Homo sapiens: one gene and its partners. The protein of the gene in region 1 purifies or fractionates together with the protein of each later gene. This does not show direct contact. Each region holds a gene or a part of one and is shown in the gene's direction. Other genes may lie near its edges.

Region 1 (5,601 bases):
ATTTGAATGTTTGTAGACTCTAGATTAACAGTTTTGTTGAAGAGTGTGGTTCCAGTAGCTACTTAGTGAAAACAGTGACTGTGAAGTAATGGTGACCTCTCTAAACGCAATTATTTGCTTACCTATTTCCTTTAATTCACACTATGGTTATATATAAAATTGTGGTTTGATTTCATATTAGAACAAAAGTGTTAAAATTACACTTTACTTGCCTTCAAAAGTTTTTTAAAAAATTAAATTCTGGGGGGTGTTCAGTGGAAGGAAAATAGCTTATTGACACCCAGAAATAATTGTAATGTCACCATGTTGAATTATGGTTTGAGAATAATTTCCTTCTGTATTCTTAGAGTTTGTTTTCATATGGGTATGTGTGACAAGGATTTTTTTTTGTAAATGCAGTTGGAAATAATCTCTTAAAAAGGTTGAGTTGTTTCAAATGGTGATGTTATGTTTTTCAAAGCAATTTCGTTACAATTTGCCTTTTCCATCATGCATTGTGGGTTAATATTAATTTTATTAATATTCCAGCAATAGCAGTGTCATCCATTAATTGGCTACCAAAAAGAGGAATATTGAATTATATTCTGAGGGTGGTTAAGAAATTATGGAAATGTTTATTAGAATATGATTTTGGAGTTTGAAATAGTCTAGCTAAATCTTTTCAGTAGATTTGTGTTCTGATTTAGGAGGAAGAAGCCATGAACAAATTTGTTACTGAAAAATAGCATGCTTGTCAGTTTGGAAAACCATCTTTTTTCCTCCCTTTGCTGCTTTTAGTCTGGCAAGAAGAATGTAGTGTAATATACGATGATGATGGGCCTGGATTTGGGGGCATTTCTAATTTCACATATTCTGTGTTGTCATCAGACCATACCCCGGTTACTCATGGTACATATGAATGTTTCAAAGTCTAGCTGAAGTTTTCTTTTATGCGATGACACTATGAGAAAACCATTTGTGGACCAAAAATGATCACTATTTCTTTTTTCTAGATAAGAAAGAAAATCTGTGGATTCTTAGTAAATGGAGAAGTGAGTGCCTTCTCTCCTAATGTTTAAATAATAAGTGTAAATATGGAAATCAGATCACCCTTTAAGCTGGATAACCTCGTGCAAGAGAATGCTTTTAACATATGCTGATTTGCAAGCCCCAGTAAAGGAAGGCTGCTTGACTCTGTAGTCAGATCTTGATTCAGATCCAGCTCCACTGCTGACAGAGTTGAGATATCTCCTGTAAAATGAGATAGAATTACACTACCTGCCCCGTGTTGGAATTAAATGAGATAGCGAGTGTAAAAGTTCTAACACACTGCGTGAAGCTTCATGTGCGAAAATGCGTATTGCCTGATCTCCCTGCATCCCTTCTGGCTTTTGTTTCTTCTTTCCTCTGAAGATTATGTAGGTACCCTGCCCAGTACCCATACGTTTAGTGTTTGTGACCAAAAGGATTTCGTATAATGTATCAATAGAGAATGCTTAATGTGTTTGTTTTGGATAAAATATCCCAGCATCTTAAATTCATTGTCAGATTATACATAAAACGCTTAATTGGCTGTTTTAAAACATTAGAATTTTGATCTTCAACCATAGTTTGTTTCTAATCTCCATAATCTCCCCAAATATTTTTCTAAAGATTCAAGTTAAATATAAATAGTTTCCCAATCTTCAGTGAATTCTGTCTTTTAGGGATTGACTGTGGGAGTGGTCTCTAAGATATAGTATTTGAAATTTAAAGTTAGAAGAATACTTCTGTAATCTACCTTGAATAGGTATTTTAAAATAGCTTAATTTCTGAAGAAAAGTTTTTAAATATTTTAATATTGAAGGTTATTTTAATATTTTAAAGTAACTTTAGTTAATCTGTAATTTTTAAAATACTTTGATTTGGTGTGAAATTAATGATTTTCTCGTGTATAGTTTATCTGTGTGCCTTATAATAAATGGACCTTGTGTCCAGTTTATTATAATTAAGAGTGTAAATCCATTTGTTAATTAGTAAATCTTACACATAGCACACGATATAGGTTGGTACTTATTTAATAAGTACTAAATTTTTATATAGATGCTTTATACTTTAATAATATTTATATTTACAGAATTTAATTGATATTTACTGAATTTAATATTTTAATTATTAATTATCTTAGTCGAGATGAAATCATAAGCATATGAGTTAAAAATATTAGCTCCTTTGTGAGGTGGAATACCATATTTAAACATTGGTGTATGAAGGCAGGTAATTTACTTCATCATTATTTTAACAAGTGATGTTGATAAAAGCCAGAGGAACAAACATGGGTGAAAAACATATTAATTAATCAAACTTCTAGTAAATACCAACCCGGGCATGTCTTTTTATGGTTGTCTTGAATTAATACTAATTTTACTTCCTTACACAAAAATACAAACTTCAAAAACAAAATAAACAAGAAAACATGAAAACATAAAAAGGAAACAAAGCAAAAACAAAACAAAAACCTTTAATATATGGACTTAAAAAAATTCTCACCATTATTAAAATTATATGCTTGAGAAAGGTTTTCAGTAGTGGTCAGTAAGTTTATACTGCATGAGCTGGACATTTTTACTTTGTTACTTGCGTGACCAGCAGCATGCATGTGCAGGTTGACGTGGATTCATTTGAGGCATGATTTGTGACACTTGGAACAAAGGGCTGCTTCCCATTCGACCTGGTAAAAGAAATTGTAACTTTTGGGCTTAATAAAACAAGCGGCTCTTGCATTGACTAATACTATATTTGCCTGTTTCACCTCTCGTCCTCATCCTTAGCTGTCCATCTTCTACATAGAAATTGGAATTATATTTCTAAAATTCAGATCTATATGTCATTTCTTCTTAAAGAAAAAAAAAAAAACAACTTTTGAAGGCGTATGAGATCAATAGAGTGGCAGTAATGTAAGGGATAGAAGATTGGCCTGTAAAATCAGACTTCCTGGCTGGGCGCGGTGGCTCATGCCTGTAATTCCAGAACTTTGGGAGGTGGAGGCGGGCAGATCACCTGAGGTCGGGAGTTTGAGACCAACCTGGCCAACGTGGTGAAACCCCGTTTCCACTAAAAATACAAAAATTAGCCGGGCATAGTGGCTCACACCTGTTATCCCGCCACTCTGGAGGCTTAGGCACGAGAATCGCTTGAACCCAGGAGGCAGAGGTTGCAGTGAGCCGAGATCGTGCCACTGCACTCCAGCCTGGGTGATAGAATGAGACTCCATCTCCAAAAAAAAAAAAACAACAACAACAACAACAGACTTCCCATCCTAAGTTAAAATACCCACTGTTCTTACTGTGTTCTTATTTAGTTACTTGCACTTTGTGTTCTTCAGCAAGTTCTTATGATTTTTGAGGCTTAGTGTATAAAATAGTAATTATAACATTATTTCATACAGTTTTTGAGAGGATTAAATGAGGTGTGTATTATAAAGTGCAGTGCCTGGTATATAACCTGCATTAATTTTCCTCCTACCATTACTATCGTTACTACTACTGCTATTGCTGTTAGTCATGGCTCACTTTATAATATGATTCCATCGTGTCTTTTGAGGCTCATTTTCAGCCATCACCTTTCAGTTTCTATGCCCTAGTCAAAGCCAGCTATTAGCGCTAATCTGAAAAGGCCATATGTTTTCATACTGATGACTACTACTTTTATTTTCCCAGCCCAGACTTCTCTTGAGTTTGATATTCACTTGGAAGTCTAGTTGGAATCTCAAGTATAATATAAATGATGTGGGTAAAATATAGCTATTTTTCCCTCTTCCCCCAACCTTCTTCCTACCCCTAAACCCTGGTGTCTCTGCTGGCATTCCCCATATCCATAAATGGCAGTACCCAAGCCAAAAACTTAAGATATTATTCTTGATTCTTTCCATTTCTCTTAAGTCCAATCCATCCCCACGTCCTGTTGCACCTTCACAATTTGCCTTGAGCAGTCCACTGCTCTTAGTCTTCGTTGCCACCTCTTTATTTGAAGCCATCATTCTCTTGCATGAAGTACTGCAGTAATTTTCTAAGTGGGCTGCTTCTTTTTCTTCTTGCTCCATAGAAGTTTTTTTTTTTTTTTTTTTCTTCACACAGCAGCCTGAGAATTATTTTAAGAGCCTATATTGGATCATATCATTTCTCTGCTTAAAATCTTCTGGTGACTTCCCATTCCTCTCAAAATCAAGTCCTCCATTCTGTGGCCTAAATGGCCCTGAATGAGCTTTCTCCTTCTCATCATTCTTCCCCTCATTCATCACATGTCAGCCACGAAGGCCTCTCAGTGTTTCTTAAACCCTCTGCACCCTTTTTTCTTCTAGGGCCTTTTGCACTTTCTGTACTCCCTCCTTGGGATATTCTTCAAATGTCTGGCTTGGCTAAACACTTTGGAGTTTGGCCCAAATCTCACTTCTCACTCAGAGGCCTAATCTGACCATCCTATTTAATATTGCAGTCTGTCATTTTACTCTCTTACACAGATTATTTCCTTCAAGACAATTGTAATTTGTGTATACCTGGTTTGTTTAGTTATTGCTTATTTATGGTATTTGTCCATTACCTGAATGTAAACTCCATAAAGGCAGAGGCCTTGTTCATCTTACTCTTAGCTGTATCCCCAGGCATTAGCATGCCGCCTGGCATTTGGAAGATAGTAAATATTTGATGCTTCTGTATCTTTGTTCCTGTTTTTTGCCAATGATTGGAATGCTGTCTTGCACACATAGTTATAGTTATTGAACTACTTATCCTTTAAGTCTTAGCTCAGATGTCATCTGTGATACCAGTTTTAATCTCCTAGACAAAAGTTTTTTGCTCTTGCTCTTGTGTGCTTCTAAAGCCCATGATACATGCACTATTTGTAGAGTAAATCCCATGTTAGGTATTTAGAATATTATTTGATTATTTGAATATAATTGATGTCACTGTCTTCTATTAGGCTGAATTGCTATGTCAAGGACCAGCTGGCTCTTTTGTGTGCTCAGTATCTACCAACCAACCTATTATAGTAGATATAGTGAATTCTCAGTAAATGTTGAATTGAGTAGAAGTTGTCCTAATCGGCCGGGCGCGGTGGCTCACGCCTGTAATCCCAGCACTTTGGGAGGCCGAGGCGGGCGATTCACGAGGTCAGGAGATCGAGACCATCCTGGCTAACACAGTGAAACCCCATCTCTACTAAAAATACAAAAAATTAGCCGGGCGTGGTGGTGGGCACCAGTAGTCCCAGCTATGCGGGAGGCTGAGGCAGGAGAATGGCGTGAACCCTGGGAGGCGGAGCCTGCAGTGAGCCAAGATCGCGCCACTGCACTCCAGCCTGGGCAACAGCGAGACTCCGTCTCAAAAAAAAAAAAAAAAAAAAAGAAGTTGTCCTAATCAACGGAAATAACCAACCACAGACCAGTTTTCCCAAATCACACTTTAAAAATCATAAAGGTACTTTCCAAATTATAATCTTACTTTATGTGTTTTCTATTAACATACGGTCATTATTCTAAGGGCAGGAATTTGAGAGCTGTGGAGCACAAGGGGCATTTCCTCAGATTCTATTTTGCTTTCTTGCTGGGCACTGAGTAGCCATCTTGTCTGAGGGAAGTATTTCCAG
Region 2 (3,746 bases), on another chromosome or scaffold:
CTCCCTGGGATTTTCTCCTGCTTTAGAGTTTTGTTTCATTTTTTTATTGTCTTGATTTCCCAGTAGCAGCCTTGCCCTAAAGCTTGACTGAGTTTATGGCTCCTAAGGAGCTTTCCTAAGACTCTTGACTATTTTTCTTCCCCCTTCAGTCAAGTGTTTTTACAGTTAAGAATTAATTTGTAACTGCATACATGCCCTGCCAGTCTGTCCCTGTGTTGGGTGGCTAATTTATGTAGCGGGTCTTTTTTATTTCTTAGCCCCCATGACTAATTATCTAGTCCTAACTTCATTTTTATCAGTGGGAAGATGTGTACGGGACCTCAGTGAGGAGCACTGCCAGAACCACAGTAACAAAATGGCACTGAAATAAGGAAGCAGCAGGTCAGAACCCCCTAGATAGTTCTTGAGTTGGTTCTCAGTCTCACTAAGGAGGCAGAATAATTGCTGCCCTGAAACTTCTCTGATAGTCAAAGGTAACTTCACTTACCTTGTTATTGCTACCAGCCATGTGGTCACTCTCCCCAAATCTTTGTCTTCCAGATCCATCTGGACCAGAACCAAACATCATGGAAGGTGTCACTTGGCCCTTCCTAAAGTCCATGGCGTTTCTAGAGGCCTAAGGGAGGACACTTTCAGAAAGGAGCTGAGTGTATGGTGGGTGTCCTGAATTCGTTCATGTGAATACAGGACTCAGGCTTCCCACCCCACTCCAATGTGAGTGCTCGATACACAAGCACTCTAGCTAGCTGCCACGTACCCAAGGCCACAGAGGGAGGGGACAGAACCAGGTCTTCTGGTCTGCTCACTTTCTGCCCCATTCCCCTAACAGAAAGTTTGCTTAGAGTTGAAAAGTCTAAGAAAGCCTCCCACAATACTAGAGAGGCCAACAAAAAAAAAGTCATGCCCCCTTTACTTACTCTTTTGCTGCTGGTTATGCATCTCAAATCTGACTTCCTTAGCCTTCACCTCCCTCCTTGGCCCTAAGCATTAGACCATGTACTCTAAGTAGTGGTTAAAGAGGGACTGAGCAAACTGAACCTCCTCTCGCTCACTTCTCTATCCCTGTTCTGTTGGTTTTGGCTCCTTTCTTGATTCACTGCCCTCTAGCACCACCCATCCTGGTAGATGGAGTGCTTAACCCCAACCGTGCCCTATGTACAGCCTGAACCACCAAACAGACACCAAAAAAATTCTTCCTGTGGTTTCTGGGGCTCCCCTGCTCCACACTGAGAGGCTCCTTAAAGGTGCTAGCCCCTGATACAGCTATCCCCGCCAGTTTTCTCCTTTTTTCATAACTTCCTTCCCATCCCCAAATCATTAATTTTTCATTAATATTGTACATTATATACACAGGAAGGAAATACATTATTTTTTTTAAATTTCATAACCAGCCTGTTTAGATTCCAGTCTTCCTAGCTATATCACATATGCCTTGTTGATATGCTCTTTCTGCTTTCTTTAGACTTAATGTTTGACGGGGGTGGGGGTGTCTGGAAGAACAGGAAAGGTGGGGATCCTAAGGCAGATTAAAGGACTCCCTCCACCCCACTACAGCCTCCCATAACTCTAGTCATCCCTCTCATAGTACAGGACTGATTTCTCTGTGTCTGTTTGTACACACAAATGTGCATACAGACATAAATTCCCCCACCCCATACCAAGGTGGTTACCTAGCAGGAATGAGCGTAGGTGGCTGCTGGCCACCATTACCACCGTCTGCATCAGCTGTGTTGTCTCTCTTTGGGGTAAAGTCCTACCCCAGAATGAGAAAAGGCTGGGGAGAGTAGGGCAGGTTAAAGGAGCTTATGTCCTCTGTAGATGTAGGTTTGTATCATAGCTACTAGGGTTTATTTTTTTAATGGGGGGCTAATAGCACAGAGTTATCTCACCAGCAGTAGCTACTGGTGAGTGATGTTTTAGCTGTAAGAAGTGGCTATGAGCAATAGTTTCACTGACTTTACCTTAGGGCAGTGCCACAGTAATCTGGGAACTTGTTAGAAATACACATTCTCAGGCCCCATCCCAGACTTATTGAATCACAGACTCTGGGGGCAGGGTTTAAAAGCACTCCAAGTGATTCTAATGCACACTAAAGGTTGAGAACCATTTCTTAGGGATAAGCTGGGAAATTTTTACAGGTGTGGAGGATATTTCAAATACATCTTTTGCCTTTGCACTAACATGCTTTCATTTCTTTCAGTCTCTTCCTCCATTCCCTTTAAAGTCTTCCCCATCATATCACTGATCTCAAAAGCTAGATTTGTCTTCATTTTAGTCGTATCCCTAAAACCATGCATTGGTCTGGACAGGAGTTGTCCCATATTCCCTTGCAGACTGGTCACTCCATGTTCTCTGTTACAGTAAGGACCAGCCAAGCTTCAGCTGTCCCATTCCTCCCCCTACAACACACACACCTTTCAGGCAGGGAGGAGATGAGCTTCCAGCCCCAAGAGTGGAGGCTGCCACATCCTAACATAGTATCTATTGAAAAGGAAGCAGTGTGTATCTATGATTATATCTCTGTTCATCTATATATTTTTGACATGTAGCAACACCTCTCCATCTTATCAAGGAACTCAACTCGGTCTGGGTCTCCCCAGTGCCCAGTGGTGGCCTTTGACAGGTAGGAGGATGCAGTGCTGCAGGCTATTTTGTTTTTTGTTACAAAACTGTCTTTTCCCTTTTCCCCTCCACCTGATTCAGCATGATCCCTGTGAGCTGGTTCTCACAATCTCCTGGGACTGGGCTGAGGCAGGGGCTTCGCTCTATTCTCCCTAACCATACTGTCTTCCTTTCCCCCTTGCCACTTAGCAGTTATCCCCCCAGCTATGCCTTCTCCCTCCCTCCCTTGCCCTGGCATATATTGTGCCTTATTTATGCTGCAAATATAACATTAAACTATCAAGTGAACCACTGTTATGTCTGATGCTTCACTCCTCTATCCACAGCCCCCATTGTCCCCTTTTCTGGGAGGTCACTGGCCTTTCATGTCTGTCATCTTCATCACTCCCCCATTTCTTAGGACAGAAGGAACAGGGATTTTTGTCTCTAGTTTTTATACATGGGAGATACAGCCTAGAGAAAGTGGATGATTTCTATAAATTACAAAGTATGACAGAAGGCCCAGGGCAGAGCTCCTGTGGACTGCCTTGGAGACAAGGGCCCTTGGCATCCTGGCAGCAAGTACTCACAGGAAACTTAGTATGTGCTTTATGTGGATGGCGGGTGGGAGAGTTGCTGATGGCAAATGGCCTTTTACTTTTCAGTGTTTTGTTGCCAACCCCCACCCAACCATTAAAAAGTGGCTGTTGTGACCAGGGAGCACACACACAGACAAAGACGGAAAGTATAGCTTTCTATGGTAAGGAGGAGGCTGGTCTGGAAATGAGGGGTAGAGTTTACTTAGAAGCAGGTAAGAAAACCGGGCATGGTGGCTCATGCCTGTAATCCCAGCACTTTGGGAGGCTGAGGCGGGTTGATCACCTGAGGTCAGGAGTTTGAGACCAGCCTGGCCAACATGGAGAAACCCCGTCTCTACTAAAAATACAAAAATTAGCCAGGTGTTGGTGGCGGGCGCCTGTAATCCCAGCTACTCAGGAGGCTGAGGCAGGAGAATCACTTGAACCTGGGAGGCAGAGGTTGCAGTAAGCTAAGATCGTGCCGTTGCACTCCAGCCTGGGCAACAAGAGTGAAACTCCATCTCAAAAAAAGCAGGTAAGAGTTCACAAGAAAAACAGGTAATGCTC
Region 3 (3,831 bases), on another chromosome or scaffold:
GGTGGCAGGTGCCTGTAATCCCAGCTGCCTAGGAGGCTGAGACAGGAGAATCACTTGAACCCAGGAGGTGGAGGTTGTAGTGAGCTGAGATCACGCCACTGCACTTTGTTGCCTGGGCAATAAAGAGTGAAACTCCATCTCAGAAAAAAAAAAAAAAAAAGATAGCTGGGCATGGTGGCATGCACCTGTGGTCCCAGCTACTCAGGAGGCTAAGGAAGGAGAATCACTTGAGCCCAGGATGTCAAGGCTGCAGTGAGCTGTGTTCACGCCGCTGCATTCCAGCTTGGGCAATAGAATGAGACTTTATCTCAAAAAAAAAATCTCTTCAGGGAATTGATAGACAAACATGTGAGCGCACGCACACACACAGCAAATAGCAAAATAGAAATCAGAGTACTGGTTTATTTATCAGTAGTTAAGTAGTTATGGTGTATACCACTTTCATCACCAAGTTAGGACATAACTGATGAAAGCTAAATTGGGTAATGTGGCTTAATCCAGAAAGTTTAAATGATGGCTCTTGTTCCTGCCCTTGTGTCCATGATCTCATATACTTAACCAGTTGCAGAGCAGGCAGTTCATTTCAGCCATCCATTCAGAAGCAGAAGAGGATGGCTGGAACTGCTAAGGCAGGCCCTGCCTTAGTCTAAATCTTGGAAAGAGATAGGAAAAGCAGCAGAGGACACACTGCATGTATGCACTGACCTGTGGCAGTACCATGTTCCTGACTCCAGTGGGAAAAAAAAAAAAGAAAGATACAATATGAATATTACACATTTGTTCAAAGCCATAGAAAGTACCACACCAAGAACAAACCCAAATGTAATCTGTGGACTTTGGACAATTATGATGTGTCAACATAGGTTCATCGATTGTAACACATGTACCACTCTGGTAGGGGATGGTGATAATGAGGGAGGCCATGTATGTGTGGGGGCACAAGGGATATATGGGAAACTTCTGTACCTTCCTTTCAATTTTGCTGTCAACCTAAAGCTGTTAAAATATCTTTTTAAAAAAGTTTAAATTAAAAAAACACGACAGTGAATGCCAGGCTTTTACCCAGCAGATTCACAATAATTCCTATAGGAATCCATTTAAGAAAGGGTTGAGAATGTGAAATGATGGATATGTTAATTTGTTTCACTGTAAGAACCATTTTACTATATACTAATATCATATTTTATACCTTAAATATACACAATAAAATTTATTTTTTTAATAAAGGGGTGAGAAAAGGTTATCAGAAATGCAGAATAAAAGTTCTCTCCTGTAATGACTTGAAGTGAAAGGTAGAAATGTCCACCTCCCAGCCCCTTTTCAACACACAGTTTTGTTTAGTACCCACATGGAACTCTTTATTTCACTGCTGGAGCATATGAAATCTGTTCTTTAGACGTTAGTTTCCATCATTTTGGGGACTTTGGTGTTATTAGTAGTGATTATGGTATATTTACTTTTAGTTACCAAACTTTATGTGCTAGTCATTACCTTTGTGTTGTTGTTATTGTCCAACTTTGACACTTGTCCTGCAGCTAAAATAAAAAATAATCATTTTTGAAAAATATTTTTGAAATATGAAACTGTAGGCCGGGCACGGTGGCTCACGCCTGTAATCCCAGCACTTTGGGAGGCCAAGGTGGGCAGATCACAAGGTCAGGAGATCGAGACCATCCTGGCCAACATGGTGAAACCCCATCTCTACTAAAAATACAAAAATTAGCTGGGCATGGTGGCATGAGTCTGTAATCCTACTCGGGAGGCTGAGGCAGGAGAATCACTTGAACCAGGGAGTCAGAGGTTGCAGTGAGCTGAGATCGCACCACTGCACTCCAGCCTGGTGACACAGCAAGACTGTCTCAAAAAAAAAAAATGAAACTGTATATTCAATATAGAAAATTTAGGAAGTATGAAAGAAGAAAAAATAAAAATTACATCATTTTTCCATGTAGTAACAGCCACCATAATATTTTGATGTGTATTCTGTTTTCTTTTTTAAAAAGTATAGTTTTTAGTTTGTTTTGTTTTGTGAAGTGTGATCTTACTATAGTCACAGTATTATATCCAAATTTTTCACTTAACATTATATTGTAAACATTTTCCAAATGAGTTTCTTGAATATTTTAATCGCTGCATATGTTGCATCATGTATATATTATTGGACAGAAAGGTTGTTTGCAATTTTGCCACTATAGATATTATGTATATTATTATGTATGTTAAGAAGATATTAGCATTTTCTTCTTAAAGCATTTCTTGTATTTTGGAGTTTTTCCTTATAGCCCTAGAAGTAGGATTACTGAAAAATTTAAGGCTCTTGATACATATTAGGAGATTTTTTTTCCCAGTGGGTTATAGCAATTACCATGCTGCTGACAATATGTAAGAAAACTGAATTCACCACACCTCACCATTTTTTTTTTTTTTTTTTTTTTTTGAGACAGAGTCTGGCTCTGTCACCCAGGTTGGAGTGCAGTGGCGTGATTTCGGCTCACTGCAAGGTCCGCCTCCCTGGTTCACGCCATTCTCCTGCCTCAGCCTCCCGACACCTCACCATTTTTTATTCTTGACCTCATTATGACTTCTCTATCCTTAGTATTAGAGTTGGGTATGGTCACTTGGTATGTGTATTCATTTCCTTCAACAGCATTAATTCTGTTTCTGTTTTTTCACATTGCCAAGAGTGGATGCAGGGACAGTGCTGGATGCTGGTTATGGAGTTAACTAGTAGGGGCTTAAGTCTTTTCATATAAAGGAGACAGAGTAGCCCTAATGCTCTTCTTTCAGCTTCAAATCTGAAAACATGATCCAGTTAGTGGATTTTACATAGAGAGTGATGGGGACATTTGGGGAATCATGCCCTAAGAGAAGTGATTGAAAAAACTATGAATTAACTTTATATCCATAATAAAGTTAACATGAAGAAGTAGAATTATTTTATGTTGCTGTAGTAAGCAGAAATAGTATCAAGGGATTGGAGAAAGACAGAGGTTTCACTTAATATTTATAACTATTGGAAATGAAACCAGACTGTTTTCATTAGTGATTTCCCACATATTCATGCATTGGTAACATTTAAGCCATGCATCCTGTGGGCTCTGCCAGCTCCTAAGTTATGTCAGTGTTAATCCCTGCCATGGAATGGGAAGAAAGAATTAGAGTAATTTACCTCAGTTGGTATTTTTTTTAATGTTTAAGGGAATTTGAGAGTACGAAGATTCATTTGAATTGACTGGCTTTGTTAAACTACAGATACTGGAGAATATAGGAAGAAGCTATGAATAATATCCAGGGACATAGTATTTGAATGATAAATTCATTGTTTTTATTCATATGTGGTAATAATGGAAAATTTATTTTAAGATTAGGAGAGGAAAGGAATCTGAAAAGTTTGTGTCATCTCCTTGAAGGACAGAAGGCTTCATGGGGCATTAAAATAAAACAAAAAATACCTTCTCTCCCTAAGATTAATGGTACCTTCCAAAGGAAATTAAGTAGTAGTCATATACCTGTGAGGAAAAGCATATTGAGACTAAAGATAGAATGTACCTGCACAATATAGAGGGGGCAGGGAAGATAGACATGGACATTTTTGAGACTCCAAAAGGGACTTTATCTAGGATATGGAGTTAAATATTTTGGTAATTGCTCTTTGAAACAAAACAGTTGTTCTAAAATATGTTATTATAGGGAGATTGGTGGACGGCTCCTCATGGTAGAAACTCGACTTGCAAATGATCTGGCTGAGTTTGAGGGAGACTTTTCCTTGGAAGGACTTCGTCTTTGGAAAACAGCATTCTCAGCAATGACTCAGAATCCAAGGCCAGGGTC
Region 4 (2,497 bases), on another chromosome or scaffold:
ACCCAAAAAACCAAGCCAAGAGGTAAGCAGGCCAGCTGGAAATGGAGCACAACCCACAGTTAAGGCAGGGAAGTGGTAGAGAGGGAGTCTGCAGGTAGCTGGACCTCACTGCCCATCTCAGTGCCAGGACCTGAGAAAACAGGCAACACTCACCCATAGTGTCATGGGGAGCTGGAACCCCTTTGCTTCTCTGTACTGAATTATAAAATCTGAGGTGAAAGATGGAAGGTTTTAATTTCTTAGCCAAGAAGGATGGCTTTCTGGAGAAGGTAGACTCTGAGGAGAACTGTAAAGAGAAGAAGATCCAGGGGATAAAAGAAAAAAAGAGAATTGGGGGGAAAAGATGTTGAAAAAGAGCCAGAGGCCACCAGGAAAACTCACTAGATTGCAACTGAGCAGAAGATGTGGGGCAGGGCAGAAACTCAATGTGCAGTGTCCATCTGCCCTTGCCGAGTTGTCGTTTAGAGAGAAATAAACGCATTTCCCTCACGGCTAGGGCTTGGGGGTGATGCAGGCACAGCAGATGGCCGAGGCAGGACACTGCAGAGGAAGATAATGAAGAGATCTCTAGGCAGGAAATCCACAGCTCCTCCTGCACCCAGAATGGGAAGGAAAGAAGGCCAAGGGAATTCAGATTCTGACCAGCCAGGTAAGGCTCAAGGCCTGGGAAAAACTAAGGGGAATGAGGTGCCTGTCAGCATCTCCCCTCCCTGAATCATTTCTTAACCATTTTACAGCTTTTCATTACTTTACAGAATGAATGAAAATTAGAATGAAAGAGCGTCTCGGACTGCACCCAGCACACACTATAGAAACAGAATGATTCCTGATTTGATTTGGCCCAGGGGCAGGAGAATGGTAGAAGAGAAGTAACACTTAATCAGTATTGCCAAGGGCTGGCTAAAGAGATACTTCCATGCCTGCTCCTTTAAATTTTTTTCAATAGCTCTCTCACTGGATATTCCCATTTTAGATATTAGAAAACTGAGGCTCAAAGGATTTAAAAAGTGCTCAAGGCTGGTGACTAGCATAGGGCAGACGGCTTGACTCTCTTTCTGATCCCAAAGTCCATATTCTTTGTATTGAGAAAGGTCATCTTTTCCAGAGATTTCTTGGAAATAGAGATTTAGGAGTTTGACTTATAAAAGGTAAGGACAGGCTGACCTAATAGGACTCTTGGCTTTGTCACCTTCTCATTTAGGCCCTAAGAAAAAATTTAAAGCTCCCCAGAGCAAGGCCTTGGCAGCCAGCTTTTCAGAGGGAAAAGAAGTTAGAACAGTGCCAAAGAACCTGGGCCTATCAGCGTGTAAGGGGGCCTGCCCCTCATCTGCGAAAGAAGAGCCCAGACACCGGGAACCCCTGACCCAGGAGGCTGGAAGTGTCCCCCTTGAGGACGAAGCCTCCAGTGACCTGGACCTGGAGCAACTCATGGAAGATGTTGGGAGAGAGCTGGGGCAGAGCGGGGAGCTGCAGCACAGCAACAGTGATGGCGAGGACTTCCCCGTGGCGCTGTTTGGGAAGTAGCTGGTGCTCCTCTGCTCCCTCTTTTTCTCCCTTCTCTGGGGCGCAGGAGGGAGAAGTTGCTAAGTGCTGGGTCTGTTCATTGGCTATGAGGTTCAAATGTGTGTGGTGCAGTTTCTGTGTTAATAAAGCAGGTTACAGTCGACTGGGTTGGCTGGTCTCTAACTGCCCCCTGTTGGCTGCTCTCCCTCCTCCGTGTCACTGTGGCGCGTCACTGCTTCTAGCGGGAGCCTGCACAGTGCAGGCATCTGGGGAAGGCAGTGAGACCTGAGTCCTAGAGGACTTCAAGAAGGGCAGATCTGGGTTCAAATCCGGGCTCGGCTCCTCACTAGCTACCTCCATGGCCTGGGGAAAAGCATGTTCACCATCCTGGTTCTGCTCTTCATCTTACAGCGAGTGCGTTCTCTACCTTATAGGGTTGTGAATGATGTCAAATGTGATGCTCTCATTGTCACCATAGGGAAGACTGTGATCGGATTTGAGGACAGGCTTTGGGTTTGGGCTGGCTACCAAGGTTTGGGGGCTTATGTTCCCTGGCCCAAGGAAGTCACTAAAAAAAGTACTAGAGGAAGGGTCTTGGGTGTGAGTTCTCTGTTAGAATTCATTTTCAGTGGGAGAGACAGGAGTTGAAGGTGATGTCAGTTTTCTCCTTACATTCAGGTAAGTTTTGGGGGTACTTTTAGTTTTATGGGCCAGGGTTGGGAAGGTGAAGAGGGAGTTGGAGTAGATGGCTCTCTTTCTGTCAGTTCTCTGGCTGGCCTCTGAGTCATCTGTGTGGCCTTGGTTATTGCTGGAAGCTGTGGCCCTTTCTATTGGAAGCGTAGCGTACTCGTAAGAAGGTCATTGTGCAGTCTTATTTTTACTTGTTTCTCTCTGTACTTGAATGGATGCAGATTTTAAAAATAGTTTTGAAGACAATCTTTTTAAATTTGTTACTTTATTGTTAATATATATTTTTAACTAGAGATGGCATCTC

The links. Proteins that work in one complex are often made in the same cells at the same time.
Region 2: the proteins of MEF2A (region 1) and ATF7 purify together in Homo sapiens (affinity purification with mass spectrometry; one large-scale study listed by BioGRID and IntAct). This does not show direct contact.
Region 3: the proteins of MEF2A (region 1) and REV3L purify together in Homo sapiens (affinity purification with mass spectrometry; one large-scale study listed by BioGRID and IntAct). This does not show direct contact.
Region 4: the proteins of MEF2A (region 1) and ZCWPW1 purify together in Homo sapiens (affinity purification with mass spectrometry; one large-scale study listed by BioGRID and IntAct). This does not show direct contact.

What each region holds. Positions count from the first base shown.
Region 1 is NC_000015.10:99,567,949-99,573,549, forward strand, and holds part of MEF2A (myocyte-specific enhancer factor 2A), read left to right. Parts: intron 1-992; exon of another isoform or gene 993-1,031; intron 1,032-5,601. UniProt on the Homo sapiens protein: Transcriptional activator which binds specifically to the MEF2 element, 5'-YTA[AT](4)TAR-3', found in numerous muscle-specific genes. Also involved in the activation of numerous growth factor- and stress-induced genes.
Region 2 is NC_000012.12:53,511,223-53,514,968, reverse strand, and holds the end of ATF7 (cyclic AMP-dependent transcription factor ATF-7), read left to right. Parts: 3' UTR 1-2,915; downstream 2,916-3,746. UniProt on the Homo sapiens protein: Stress-responsive chromatin regulator that plays a role in various biological processes including innate immunological memory, adipocyte differentiation or telomerase regulation.
Region 3 is NC_000006.12:111,367,888-111,371,718, reverse strand, and holds part of REV3L (DNA polymerase zeta catalytic subunit), read left to right. Parts: intron 1-3,690; coding exon 3,691-3,831. UniProt on the Homo sapiens protein: Catalytic subunit of the DNA polymerase zeta complex, an error-prone polymerase specialized in translesion DNA synthesis (TLS). Lacks an intrinsic 3'-5' exonuclease activity and thus has no proofreading function.
Region 4 is NC_000007.14:100,400,041-100,402,537, reverse strand, and holds the end of ZCWPW1 (zinc finger CW-type PWWP domain protein 1), read left to right. Parts: coding exon 1-22; intron 23-496; coding exon 497-649; intron 650-755; coding exon of another isoform or gene 756-760; exon of another isoform or gene 761-1,201; coding exon 1,202-1,524; 3' UTR 1,525-1,666; downstream 1,667-2,497. UniProt on the Homo sapiens protein: Dual histone methylation reader specific for PRDM9-catalyzed histone marks (H3K4me3 and H3K36me3). Facilitates the repair of PRDM9-induced meiotic double-strand breaks (DSBs). Essential for male fertility and spermatogenesis.